Linked DNA regions of Homo sapiens. The protein of the gene in region 2 purifies or fractionates together with the protein of the main gene of each other region. This does not show direct contact. Each region holds a gene or a part of one and is shown on either strand. Other genes may lie near its edges.

Region 1 (7,039 bases), on a different chromosome or scaffold from region 2:
ATTCTTGGAGGGGCAAAAAAATCTTAGCTATTATAATGGTTTGTGGCCCTCCAAAACTCAGTCGTATCTAACAAAATCTTAGTCCTTAGTATTTAATTTTTCTCAGCAAGGAGTAATCAAATTAAATTAATGTAATCAATTAAATTAAAGTTAATTTTTATTTTTAGAAGGTAGTGATTCTAAAAAGTTGAGAACACTTTGCTATAGGAATTGGTGTGTTTTTCTTAGAAAATCTGAAGCTCTATCACAAGAGTAATAGCAAATGTAACTAAAATGTAAATATATGTTCCTGTGGTCTTTTTTCTCTGCCTGGTACATAATTCTAAATATAAACTCATCATTAATCTTTTAAAGTTCATTCCTCACTTTATTCATACTTCCTAAACAATAATAGCTAACATTTTTCAAGTGTTATTATCTGCCAGATACTGTTCTAGGGGATTAGCTTATTTATCTTTCACAACTACCCTTTTGCAATTTATTAATACTTTCTTGTATCCATTTTAGAGATCCAGAAACTGAGGCAAACAGAGGCTCCTCTGTATATAAGGTTACACAGCTGGTACATGACAGAGCTGGGCAGTAGGGCTCTGCCTCTGAACTCTTCACCTGGTTAACTCATCAGCTTTCAAAGTGAGGTTAAAGAGTAATCACCCCTCTCCATTATCAATCCATTACCTCAAATCCTTTCCAAGTCTAGCAGCACATGACAAGTGCCCACAGTTAAATGCAAAAGAGTTGAGATGATATATTTCCCCTCAGTCATCGCAGCCATATTCCTATTTCAGTGAGTACTAATCCAAGTTTTGAAAACTTCTCAGGGTGTCCCAATTATCTTAAATAATACTGTAAAATTACCTAAATTTTTCTTATAACAAAGTTAATTTAGTTCACTTAAAATTTAAAAATGAAAATTTGCTATAGAATGATTTGTAAAAGGAAAGTTGTAAAATTAATAACAAACGCTCCCAAAACAAGCTCTTTTACATAGTTGTAGAAATGCCAGTTTTAGGTGAAATAATATTAATGATTACAATAGCTAATTATGTGTCTTTACTATTGATCAGGCACTGTGCTAAAAGACCTCATTCTCATTTTTAAATCCTTACAAATATCCCGTGGGTTAGATATTATTCTTCCTACTTTAAAGAAATAGGATCTAGGGTTCAGAAAGGTTAAATAACATGTCCAAGCTTACACAGAGCTGGAATTTGAACCCAGACATGTCTGACTGTGAAGTCTATGCCCCTCATTGCTAGTCTATATTGCCAGGTTTCCCTTCTTCCCTGCCCTTGAACTAACCAGGCCCTTCATCCTGCTCTAGGCCCTCTCCTGCAATGCTCACCTCTGGGAAACCAGTGATGGTACACTAGTCCTTAGCTCACCTTTTAATACACAACAGAATTTCACACAATAAGGATAAATGTGCCTCGGTTTTCCCATCTGGAAAATAGAGAAAAAACCAATCCTATCTCATAGGATTGTTGGGAGGGTTAAATGAATTAATACATGATAAGTGCTTAGAAAAATGCCTGGCCCACATGAGCACTCAATATATGGTGATATTTTTCCTTGTATATGTTTTTGTAATTTACACAATCTGTTCTCTTTGGACACATTTAGATTTCAATTAGTAATGTTATAATACCATGCATTTTATACCTCCACAAAATGCAGAATAAACATTTTTGAATTATAATTTTAATGATTAACATTATAATTAATGAGTACTCAGGGGTTCTTAAACTGACATGTTTGAATTTTAGGAGGGGGAAGGCATATAGTGTCTGTGCTGAGAAATTTTAATTATATAGAAGGGGTGATCCTCCTTTGATATTCTTATGTTCTTTCCTTTTTTTTTTTTTTGAGACGGAGTCTCGCTCTGTCACCCAGGCTGGAGTGCAGTGGTACAATCTTGGCTCACTGCAATCTCTGCCTCCTAGGTTCAAGCAATTCTCCTGCTGGGGCAGGAGATTACAGTAGCTGGGATTACAGGCTCACTGCAACCTCCACCTCCCAGGTTCAAGCAGTTCTCCTGTCTCAGCCTCCTGAGTAGCTGGGATTACAGGCACATGCCACCACGTCCGGCTAATTTTTGTATTTTTAGCTGAGATGAGGTTTCATCATATTGGTCAGGCTGGTCTAGGACTTCTGACCTCAGGCGATCCATCCACCTTGGCCTCCCAAAGTGCTGGAATTAGAGGCGTGAGCGGCTGCACCCGGCCCCATTTTTTTTTCCCCCATTTCCCCACTGGATACCTCTTACACAATTTCCATTCTTACTTGCTGCCATACCTCCAGGGCAGCAATAGGACAGCTGGATGCAAGGTACAAGTCCTGAGCCAGGTTATAATCGTTGGTAAACATGGCAAGGTGTCCTGCCAAAAGATTGTAGTCCTCTATTCCCTACAAATAAAAGCAATTCTGATGAGAAAAAAAATGCAAGAGTTTAACTTTTTTTTTTTTTTAAGGACTTTGATCAGTAGGAAGTGGTAACGTTCTATCGATTCACTTGTTTAAGAGGTAAGATTAAATGCAAAAAATTTAGACTGCATTTAACTTAAAATAGCATTTAAATTTTAACTTGATAATTCTATAACATGCTGTTTACCTTTATTTGTTCCAAGGACATCACTATGCCAACATTTCCAATTCTCCGATAAACACGGATTGCAAACTCCACTTCCATGTGATGTAGACAAGCTCTGGCCAACTCATTCCAGGCAGCCTCATCATTCAGAATCCTGCACATTTCCCAAGCATCAGAAAACCTGGGATGTAAGAACATAAGCTTAATCAGAATGTTCCACTTGCCACATGTTAGGCAATTTTCAGACTACATGTCATCTAATAGCGTGCCCCAGATAAACTGTCTAAAACATTTCTTAACCTGTAATTGTCATTTACAAGTAATGAAAAAACACTTAAGCTTTCTTCCTTTTTTTACAGATAAATGTTTTTCCCTAAATTTCTTTTATTAATCTGAATCTACTCTGTAATAAGCCTACTCAATTAACTAAGCTAATCCTATTCATTTATTTCTTTTTATTTCACACATAGATGAATATTATTTTTGTTCTCATATAAGTCTAATAAAATTAGTATTCTATTCCTATAAATTTAGAAGTTTAAAACAGGGGTCAGCAAACTATGGCTTATGGGCCAAATCTAGTCAGGTGCTGTTTTGAAAATACAGCTTGAGTGGAACAAAGTCACTGATCAGCCCACTCTTTTTTTTTTTTTTTTTTTTTTGAAGACGGAGTCTCACTCTGTTGCCCAGGGTGGGTGGAGTGCAATGGCGTGATCTCACCTAACTGCAACCTCGGCCTCCTGGGTTCAAGTTATTCTCCTGCTTCAGCCTCCCGAATAGCTGGGACTACAGGCGCATGCCATGACACCCGGCTAATTTTTTGTATTTTTAGTAGAGACAGGGTTTCATCGTGTTAGCCAGGATGGTCTTGATCTGCTGACCTCATGATCCGCCCGCCTCGGCCTCCCAGAGTGCTGGGATTACAGGTGTGAGCCACCGTCCCCGGCCCAGCCCACTCTTTAATGGATTGTCTGTGGCCACTTTCCTGCTACAACAGCCAGACTGAGTAGCTGCGATAGAGACCCTATGGCCCGTAAAGCTTGAAATATTTGCCATTTGGACCTTAACACAAAAGGTTTTCCGACCTCTGGTTTAAAACATGAACATAAATGCCAATTAAACTTTTTGTGGAACCTCTACATGAGTGAATATATTACATCCATCTATCTATTCATTCATCCATTTATCTATTCACCTATCCATTTTTTCATCCAACACACATTTACTGAACTCGTTACATGCTTGGAAACATGATACAAAAATCAACCACAGTTGCTGTCCTTAAGGCAGTCACAATTGGGGAAGGTGGAAGAGACAGATAAGGAAACAAATGACTATAGCATAGTTTGACAGAGGTAACTGAGTACTTACAATAGGTAACTCTTTGTGCTAAGTCTTTTGCATAAATTCTCTTACCCTAATAACCCTACCCACTAAGTATTATTATTATGTCTCCTTTATAGATTAGGAAAATGAGGCTTAGAGACGTCAAAAGACTAGCCCAAGGCACACAGAGGTAAGTGGTGTCATGCTCTTCACCACTGTGTATACTGCATCCTGGCTCTGAGGCAACACATCAGAAAGACCCCAAGCAGGACTGCCTGTGGTGGTGGGGAAGTCGGGGAAGGCTTCCTGGAGCAGGAGATGGCTCCACTTATCGCTGATGGGTAAAGAAAGAGGGGTTACTACATTCAGAGCAGGGAAAGGGCATTCCAGGAAGAATCATGAAATATATGCAATTTCAGCAGCCAGTGGAACAGAGAGGGACTTGAGTGGAGACAGTTGAGCTGGTGTTAAATCATGAAGTGCCTAGTAGGTCATAGAGGTCCCCCAGGAATGGATTTGTTTGTAAAGGCAATAGAAAGTCACTGAAGGATCCTGAGCAGGGAAATAAGAGGATCAAATCACATCTTCAAAAGTGTGTGGAGAACAGATGAGATCGTTACAAGGCTATTGGCAGACAGAGCAGTTAGGAAGTGGTTAGTTACATTACACATTATTCCAGGTGAGGGCCTGGGTAAAGATGAGGGAACACGGGAGGAGGAAAGGAGCTGGTGTATATGTGTGTTAAGGCATGTGCATGTGTGATTACAGTGAGGGAAAATAGGGGCCTGTGGAAATTGATGAGTTCAGTTTTAGAAAGGGCAAGTTTGAAGAGCTCATGGACTTCCAAGGACACATGACTGGAAGGTAGTTGTAAGTACAGGTTTAAGATAAAGACACAGATTTTAGAGTCAGCTTCATATGGGTGGTATGTTGAGCCATGTTAAGCAGAGGAGATTCACTCAGGAAGAATAATTAGAGTAAGAAGAGAAGGAAACTCATGAGACCCCAATAAACAGCAGCATTTAAGAGAGGCTCGGAAGAATTAGAACGTCAAAGGAATTCACGGTGGCTCTAGGAGATAAGAGAAAAAAACAGTAAAAGGAAATTATAAGCAAAGCAAAATCAAACCTCACTATGATGAAGTCAAGATATTGTTGAAATAATTAGGTTTATTTTATTAGGATTTCCCAATAACTAGGCTCTCTGGAAGCTTAGAAACCGTTTTGTTCTTAAGGGCTTTTCTTGTAATAAAGTACTCATAATAAAAACAGCTGACTATCTTATCTGAGCCTCACAATATCCCTGTGAAATGAACAAGGTAAGTGCTGTTATCTCCATCTATTGAATAGGATTTGACATTTTATCAAAAAGACACCTGCACTCATATGTTTACTGCAGCACTATTCACAATAGCAAAGTCATGGAATCAACTTAAGTGTCCATCAACAGATGACTGGATTTTAAAAAGTGGTGTGTATATATAGATATACACACTATGGAATACTACTCAGCCATTAAAAAAATGAAATCATGTCTTTTGCAGCAATATGGATGGAATTCGAGGTCATTATCCTAAGTGAAATGCCCCAAAGTCAAAAACTGCATGTTCTCACTTAGAAGTGGGAGGTAAACAATGGGTACACATGGACATACAGGTGGAATAATAGATACTGGCAACTCCAAAAGGCGGGATGGTGAGACAGGGTTGAGGGATAAAATACTACCCACTGGGTACAGTGTTCACTATTCTGGTGATGGGTACATTAAAAGCCCAGACTTCACCATATGCACTATATCCATGTAGCACAACTGCACTTGTACTTCTACATTTACAAAAAAAAAAAAAATTCTTGCAAGGATAAAGAATAAAGCAATAAAATAAGATAGAATAATTATAGGATTTGACCTTTAAAATCACAAAAGCAAATGAGAAGTTCCAAAAGAAGTGTGTGAAAGCCTACCTCTTTAGCATTAAATTCTGTGCCAGCATTGGTCTCAGTTCGTCAGGCCCCGTATCTTTTAAGTTGCTGAGAAAGCCATGGGTGCTAAGGTAGATGTTGTTTACTTTTCCACTCTGTGTTTGGCAGGTCAGCTCTCCATTATATAGCAGCAAAGGTTTATGAGCAAAAGGAACTTTGGTGCTACCAGCCAAAATAACCTTGGCTCCTACATTATAAAACAGACATCGCAATGCTGAAAGCTAATACTCAGCACAAACATCAGAAAGAATGTTTTAATTTTACTGCAATGGGAAATTCATCTGTCAGCGAATATACACAAAAGGGGTTTAGTACCTTGTATAGTGTCCTTGTGAAAGACATAAGTGTACACCTTATCATCATCATAAGCAATAAATACACCTTTATCCATTGGCCAGTTTTCCCAAAGAACACCTTTAATGGTTGGTGAAAAATCTGGAATCTCATAGGTAGCGTCATTGACCTACAAAATAAAATTTACAGATTTGCCCCAAGTCTGTACTTGAATCATTATCATTTGCCGTGGTAGAAGCCTGTTTGCAGCCTTAGCTGGCTTAGCTTACTGAGTCATATTCAACCTAACATCACTCCAACAACAACAGGAAAGAAAGTTTCTTTTTCCATTCCTATCCTAGGTCTGGCTTGAAAAAACTATAGTTATTTGGAAAAGCCAAGGTTTGATCTAAAATCTGGCAAATTTGTAGGAGAACCCACAAGTCTAGACACAAAGCTTCAGGTTAAGGAAAAAAAATTAAAGCTGCTCAGGATGACAGAAATTTAAACTACGAACACACTTGTACTTGTGTTTAGAAATTTTTCAATAATACTGAGTATTTGATAATAGTGGGTATTAAGAAACAAATTAACTCACATGATTGAAGTAAATTACACTAGGGATACTTTATTTCAAAAGCTTCTCTAAAATGCATGTCAACAAATATAAATATACAATCATCCCTCAACATCCATGAGGGATTGGTTCCAGGATCTCCCACGGATAGCAAAACCCACAGATGGCCAAATCCCTGAATAAAATGGTGTAATATGTGTATAAACTATGTACACCCTCCCTTATACTTTAAATCATCTCTAGATTACTTATAATACCTAATACAATATAAATGCTATGTAAATAGTTGTCATA
Region 2 (7,039 bases):
CCTCAGCCTCCCGAGTAGCTGTGATTACAGGCATGCGCCACCAAGCCCGGCTAATTTTGTGTTTTTAGTAGAGACGGTGTTTCTCCATGTTGGTCAGGCTGGTCTCGAACTCCCGACCTCAGGTGATCCGCCTGCCTCGGCCTCCCAAAGTGCTGGGATTACAGGCGTGAGCCACGGCGCCTGGCGGGGGTGATATTTGGGAGCCCAGTGACGGGGTGGATTTTGGTTGAGGACCGGAATTTGTAGATCGTTTTCATGGGCTCGCTGAACCTTCTCCCAGGCCTTGGGAACCCTTTCCTCCGGAAGAAAGTGTCAGAGGCACATCTGCCCTCTGGCATCCACAGTGCCCTGGGCACCGTGAGCTGTGGTGGAGACGGCAGGGGCGAGCGCGGCCTCCCGACACCGCGGACAGAAGCAGGTATTTGCGAGTCCACCGACCTCCTAGACCCCAGAACTCCGTCCCCACTAAAACCCAGGAGTCTGGTGCCTCAATCCATCTGTCCAAAATACTCAGGAGCTCAGGACCGCACCCACTCCTTCCTCACACCAAGGAGTTCAGGTCCTGAGCCGCCTCCTCCTGCAGCATCCAGAAATCCAACTCTCCCCTCCTTCCTTCCTCAGTGTTCAGGAATCTCGGTCTCCAGTCCCCTTTCTTATCCTGGCTCCCAGACAATTCCGATGCAGAATTGGAGGAAGTCTCCGTGGAGAATGGTTCCGTCTCTCCCCCACCTTTTAAACAGTCTCCGAGAATCCGACGCAAGGGTTGGCAAGCCCACCAACGACCTGGTAATTTAGGGGACATTGGGGTGAAACCTGGGATCTCCTGGTTCATGCAGCAAATCTTCCCCTTTCTTAGGCAGCAGCTTCACTGAAGTATAATTCACAAACCATACAAGTCACCCATTTAAAGTTCACAATTCCATGGTTTCCAGTACACGGTCGCCCCTCGGTATCTGCAGGTGATGTGTTCCAGGAACCCCACAGATACCAAGATCCGCAGACGCCAAAGTCCCTTATATAAAATGGTGTAAAATTTGCATATAAACTATGAACATCCCCCCATATACTGTAAGTCATCTCTAGATAACTTATAATACCTAATACAGTATAAATGCAATGTAAATATTTGTTGCTGTTGTTGTTGGGAGGGAGTCTCACTCTGTCGCCTAGGCTGGAGTGCAGTGGCGTGATCTTGGCTCACTGCAACCTCCGCCTCCTAGGTTCAAGCTATTCTCCTGCCTCAGCCTCCCAAGTAGCTGGGACTACAGGTGCGCATCACCACGCCCAGCTAATTTTTGTATTTTTAGTAAAGATGGGGTTTCACCATGCTGGCCGGACTGGTCTTAAACTCCTGACCTCATGATCCACCCACCTCAGCCTCCCAAAGTGCTGGGATTACAGGCATAAACCATCATGCCTGGCCCGTAAATAGCTGTTATATGTTATTTAAAAAAATTTTTAAAAATAAAGTGCCTGTAATTCCAGCACTTTGGGAGGCTGAGGCTGGTTGGTCACTTCAGTCCAGGAATTTGAGACGAGCCTGGCCAACGTGACGAAACCATGTCTCTACTAAAAATACAAAAATTAGCCAGGCAAGGGGGTGCAGGCTTGTAATCCCAGATACTCCGGAGGCCAAGGCAAGAGAGTCACTTGAACCCAGGAGGCCGAGGTTGCAGTGAGCCGAGATCATGCCACTGTACTCCAGCCTGGGTGACAGAGCAATACTCTGTCTCAAAGAAAAAAAAAATTGGTTCTGTTATTTATTGTCATCTTGTTGTTTTTCAATTTCTTTCCTGAATATTTTGGGTCAGCAGTGGGGATGTGGAGCCTGTAGGATACGAGAAGCTAACTATATTTATATAATTCTGCAACCGTCACCACAATCAATTTTAGAACATTTGTATCACCCCAGATAGAGATCCTGCATCATGGCTGGGCGCGGTGGCTCACGCCTGTAATCCCAGCACTTTGGGAGGCAAAGGTGGGTGGATCACCTGAGGTCAGGAGTTCAAGACCAGTCTGGCCAACATGGTGAAACCCAGTCTCTACTAAAAATACAAAAATTAGCTGGGCGTGGTGGCATGCACCTGTAATCCTAGCTGCTGGGGAGGCTGAGGTGGAAGAATTGCTTGAACCCAGGAGACAGAGGTTGCAGTAAACTGAGATCAGGCTACTGCATTCCAGCCAGGGTGAAAGAGCGAGACTTTGTCTCAAGGAAAAAAAAAAGAAAGAAAGAAATAGTGCATCAATTAGCAGTCACCCCTTTTCCATTTACCCCAGCCCTTGGCAACCACCAACCTCCACTGTCTTCTTAGATTTGGCTATTCTGTACATTTCACACAAATGGAATCGTATACATATGTGGTCTTTTGTATGTGGCTTCTTTCTTCAATTCCTTTTTTTTTTTTTTTCTTGAGGCAGAGTCTTGCTCTGTCTCCCAGGCTGGAATGCAATGGCGCGATCTCAGCTCACTGCAACCTCTGCCTTCTGGGTTCAAGCGATTCTCCTGCCTCAGCCTCCCGAGTAGCTGGGGTTACAGGCGCGTGCCACCATGCTCGGCTAATTTTTTGTGTTTTTTAGTAGAGACAGGGTTTCACCATGTTGGCACAGCTGGTCTCAAACTCCTGAACTTGTGATCTGCCTGCCTCGGCCTCCCAAAGTGCTGGGATTACAGGCGTGAGCTAATGCACCTGGCCTCTTTTGCTTTGAGATGGTGTGTCACTATGTTGCCTAGGCTGGTCTTGAACTCCTGGGCTCAAGTGATCCTCTCACCTTGGCTTCCCAAAGTGCTGGGATTACGGGTGTGAGCCACCGTGTGTCTTCATTCACCTCATTCACCTAATGATTTTTTTTTTTTTTGAGACGGAGTCTCACTCTGTCACCTAGGCTGTGTGGGGAAAAGAAAGAGAGATCAGATCGTTACTTTGTCTATGTAGAAAAAGGAAGACATAAGAAACTCCATTTTGATCTGTACTAAGAAAAACTGTTCTGCTGGCTGGGCGCGGTGGCTCACGCCTGTAATCCCAGCACTTTGGGAGGCCGAGGCGGGCGGATCACGAGGTCAGGAGATCGAGACCACAGTGAAACCCCACGTTTACTGAAAATACAAAAAATTAGCCGGTTGCGGTGGTGGGCGCCTGTAGTCCCAGCTATTCGGGAGGCTGAGGCAGTAAAACGGCGTGAACCCGGGAGGCAGAGCTTGCAGTGAGCTGAGATCGCGCCACTGCACTCCAGCCTGGGTGACAGAGCAAGACTCCGTCCCCCCCCCAAAAAAAAAAAGAAAAACTGTTCTGCTTTGAGATGCTGTTAATCTGCAACTCTTGTCCCAACCCTGTGCTCACAGAAACATGTGTTATATTGACTCAAGTTTTAAGGGATTTAGGGCTGGGCAGGATGTGCTTTGGTAAAAATGGTTTTGCAGGCAGTATGCTTTGTGAAAGTCATTGCCATTCTCCATTCTCTATTAACCAGAAACATAACACACTGTGGAAGGCTGCAGGGACCCCTGCCCAAGGAAGCCTGGGCATTGTCCAGGATTTCCCCGACTGAGACAGCCTGAGATATGGCCTCGTGGGAAGGGAAAGACCTGACGGTCCCCCAGCCCGACACCCGTAAAGGGTCTGTGCTGAGGAGGATTAGTGAGAGAGAAAGGCCTCCATGCGGTTAAGATAAGAAGGAGGCATCTGTCTCCTGCACGTCTCTGGAAATGGAATGACTCAGTGTAAAACCGACCATACATTCTATTCTGAGATAGGAGAAAACCACCTTATGGCTGGAGGCGAGACATCATGGCGGCAATACTGCTCTTTACTGCACTGGGATGTTTATGTAAAGTTAAACATAAATCCAGCCTATGTGCACATCCAGGCACAGCACCTTTCCTTAAACTTATTTATGACACAGAGTCTTTTGTTCACATGTTTTCCTGCTGACCCTCTCCCCACCATCACCCTATAGTCACACCAAATTCCCCTCACCAAGATAGTAAAGATAGTGATCAATAAATACTGAGGGAACTCAGAGATCAGCGCTGGTGCGGGTCCTCACTTGCGGAGCACTGGTCCCCTGGGCCCACTTTTCTTCCTCTATACTTTGTCTCTGTGTCTTCTTTCTTCTCTCAGCCGCTCGTCTCCACCTTGCGAGAAATACCCACGGGTGTGGAGGGGCAGGCCCCCTTCAGGCTGGAGCGCAGTGGCACGATCTCGGCTCACTGCAACCTCTGCCTGGCTGGGTTTAAGCGATTCTCCTGCCTCAGCCTCCTGAGTAGCTGGAACTGCAGGTGCACGCTGCCACGCCCTGCTAATTTTTGTATTTTTAGTAGAGACCGGTTTCACTATGTTGGCCAGGCTGATTTTGAACTACTGACCTCGTGATCCGCCCACCTCCGCCTCCCAAAGTGCTGGGATTACAGGCATGAGCCACCGCCCCTGGCCCACCTAACAAATTTTTTTTTTTTTTTTGAGACGGAGTCTCGCCCTGTTGCCCAGGCTGGAGTGCAGTGGCACAATCTCGGCTCACTGCAAGCTCCGCCTCCCGGGTTCACACCATTCTCCTGCCTCAGCCTCCCAAGTAGCTGGGACTACAGGCGCCGGCCACCACACCCGGCTAATTTTTTTTTTTTTTTTGTATTTTTAGTAGAGACGGGGTTTCACCATGTTTGCCAGGATGGTCTCGATCTCCTGACCTCGTGATCCGCCCGCCTCGGCCTCCCAAAGTGCTGGGATTACAGGCGTGAGCCACCGTGCCCGGCCATAAAATTTTAAGGTTCATCCGTGTGGTAGTATTATCAGTACTTCATTCCTTTTTATTCCCTTATAATATTCCATTGTGGTGACGTTTCCTTTTATTTTCATGAGATGGCCAATGATTTCAATGACAGAATTATTATCACCCCAAACTCCATCCCCCCATCTTCAGTCTCTGTGATGCTTTGTCTGAGATAAGGAAAAGGAAAGACCCTAACCCCTCCCTGTCCTTAGATCCAGGGTAATCAGAAACTCTGGCCCTTGTAGACTTCCGTGCACCTGGAGGAGGAGGAGGTTGTTGCAAGTGAGGGCGCTGAGTCATGAGTAGGGACTGAGAACCCAGGAGTTCTGGCCATCTCTGGCTAGCACTGATGATGGTGTCCCACACTCCTGGGATCCAGCTGTCCTGAGCTTAGTCCAGGCTTCTTTCATCCTTTAGGTGAAGGGGTGGGTTGCCCCTCCACACCTGTGGGTTCGTTAGGTGGAACGAGAGACTTGGAAAAGAAAAAGACACAGAGACAAAGTATAGAGAAAGAAATAAGGGGACCCAGGGAACCAGCGTTCAGCATATGGAGGATCCCGCCAGCCTCTGAGTTCCCTTAGTATTTATTGATCATTTGTGGGTGTTTCTCCGAGAGGGGGATGTGTCAGGGTCACAAGACAATAGTGGGGAGAGGGTCAGCAGACAAACACGTGAACAAAGGTCTTTGCATCATAGACAAGGTAAAGAATCAAGTGCTGTGCTTTTAGATATGCATACACATAAACATCTCAATGCTTTACAAAGCAGTATTGCTGCCCGCATGTCCCACCTCCAGCCCGAAGGCGGTTTTTCCCTATCTCAGTAGATGGAACGTACAATCGGGTTTTATACCGAGACATTCCATTGCCCAGGGACGGGCAGGAGACAGATGCCTTCCTCTTGTCTCAACTGCAAGAGGCATGCCTTCCTCTTATACTAATCCTCCTCAGCACAGACCCTTTACGGGTGTCGGGCTGGGGGACGGTCAGGTCTTTCCCTTCCCACGAGGCCATATTTCAGACTATCACATGGGGAGAAATCTTGGACAATACCTGGCTTTCCTAGGCAGAGGTCCCTGCGCCCTTCCGCGGTGTTTGTGTCCCTGGGTACTTGAGATTAGGGAGTGGTGATGACTCTTTAGGAGCATGCTGCCTTCAAGCATCTGTTTAACAAAGCACATCTTGCACCGCCCTTAATCCATTTAACCCTGAGTGGACACAGCACATGTTTCAGAGAGCACGGGGTTGGGGGTAAGGTTATAGATTAACAGCATCCCAAGGCAGAAGAATTTGTCTTAGTACAGAACAAAATGGAGTCTCCTATGTCTACTTCTTTCTACACAGACACAGTAACAATCTGATCTCTCTTGCTTTTCCCCACATTAGGGACCCGTGCAGAGGGTGAGAGTGACTCCCAGGATATGGGAGATGCACACAAGTCACCCAATATGGGACCAAACCCTGGAATGGATGGTGACTGTGTATATGAAAACTTGGCCTTCCAAAAGGTAGGAAAATGCACAATCACTCAGGATATTGGAAGAAGAGGGCTAGCCTCGGACCTCTGGTGAGGGTGGGGCTAAAATTCTGCCACCCAATCAGAAGCTCTTTTTCCTGGTGGTGATTAAGCTGGCAGAGACTTGTGTGTGTGCGTGCGTGCGTGCGTGCGTGCATGTGTGTGTGTGTACCATTCATCAAATCAGAGGATTTGACTTGACATGGACATGGCCATTAAAATACAGCTTATGGTATGGTGGCTCACGCCTGTAATCCCAGCACTTTGGGAGGCTGAGGTGGGCAGATCACTTGAGGTCAGGAGTTCGTGACCAGCCTGGCCAACGTGGTGAAACCCTGTCTCTAGTAAAATACAAAAATTAGCCAGGTGTGGTGGCGCACGCCAGTAATCCCAACTACTCAGGAGGCTGAGGCAGGAGAATCACTTGAACCTGGGAGGCGGAGGTTGCAGTGAGCTGAGATTGCACTCCAGCCCGGGAGACAGAGTGAGACTGTCCAAAAAAAAAAAAAAATAGGTGCAGCCATGGAAAGACAGCGAGCTTCAGAAAGGGCAGAACACTGATCGAAAAGGGCCAGTTGCAGGCCAGGAACGGTGACTCACGCCTGTAATCCCAGCACTTTGGAAGGCCGAGGCAGGCAGATCACCTGAGGTCAGGAGTTCCAGACCAGCTTGGCCAACTTGGTGAAGCCCCGTCTCTACTAAAAATACAAAAATTAGCTGGGCGTGGTGGCGAAAGCCTGTAATCCTAGCTACTTGG

What was found.
Region 1: the proteins of TULP2 (region 2) and WDR19 purify together in Homo sapiens (co-immunoprecipitation; 3 studies listed by BioGRID and IntAct, with this or other methods). This does not show direct contact.

Annotation. Positions count from the first base shown.
Region 1 is NC_000004.12:39,227,529-39,234,567, reverse strand, and holds part of WDR19 (WD repeat-containing protein 19), read right to left. Parts: intron 6,359-7,039; coding exon 6,211-6,358; intron 6,083-6,210; coding exon 5,878-6,082; intron 2,772-5,877; coding exon 2,612-2,771; intron 2,407-2,611; coding exon 2,296-2,406; coding exon of another isoform or gene 2,263-2,295; exon of another isoform or gene 2,260-2,262; intron 1-2,259. UniProt on the Homo sapiens protein: As component of the IFT complex A (IFT-A), a complex required for retrograde ciliary transport and entry into cilia of G protein-coupled receptors (GPCRs), it is involved in cilia function and/or assembly.
Region 2 is NC_000019.10:48,888,745-48,895,783, reverse strand, and holds part of TULP2 (tubby-related protein 2), read left to right. Parts: intron 1-280; coding exon 281-418; intron 419-621; coding exon 622-786; intron 787-6,152; coding exon 6,153-6,274; intron 6,275-7,039.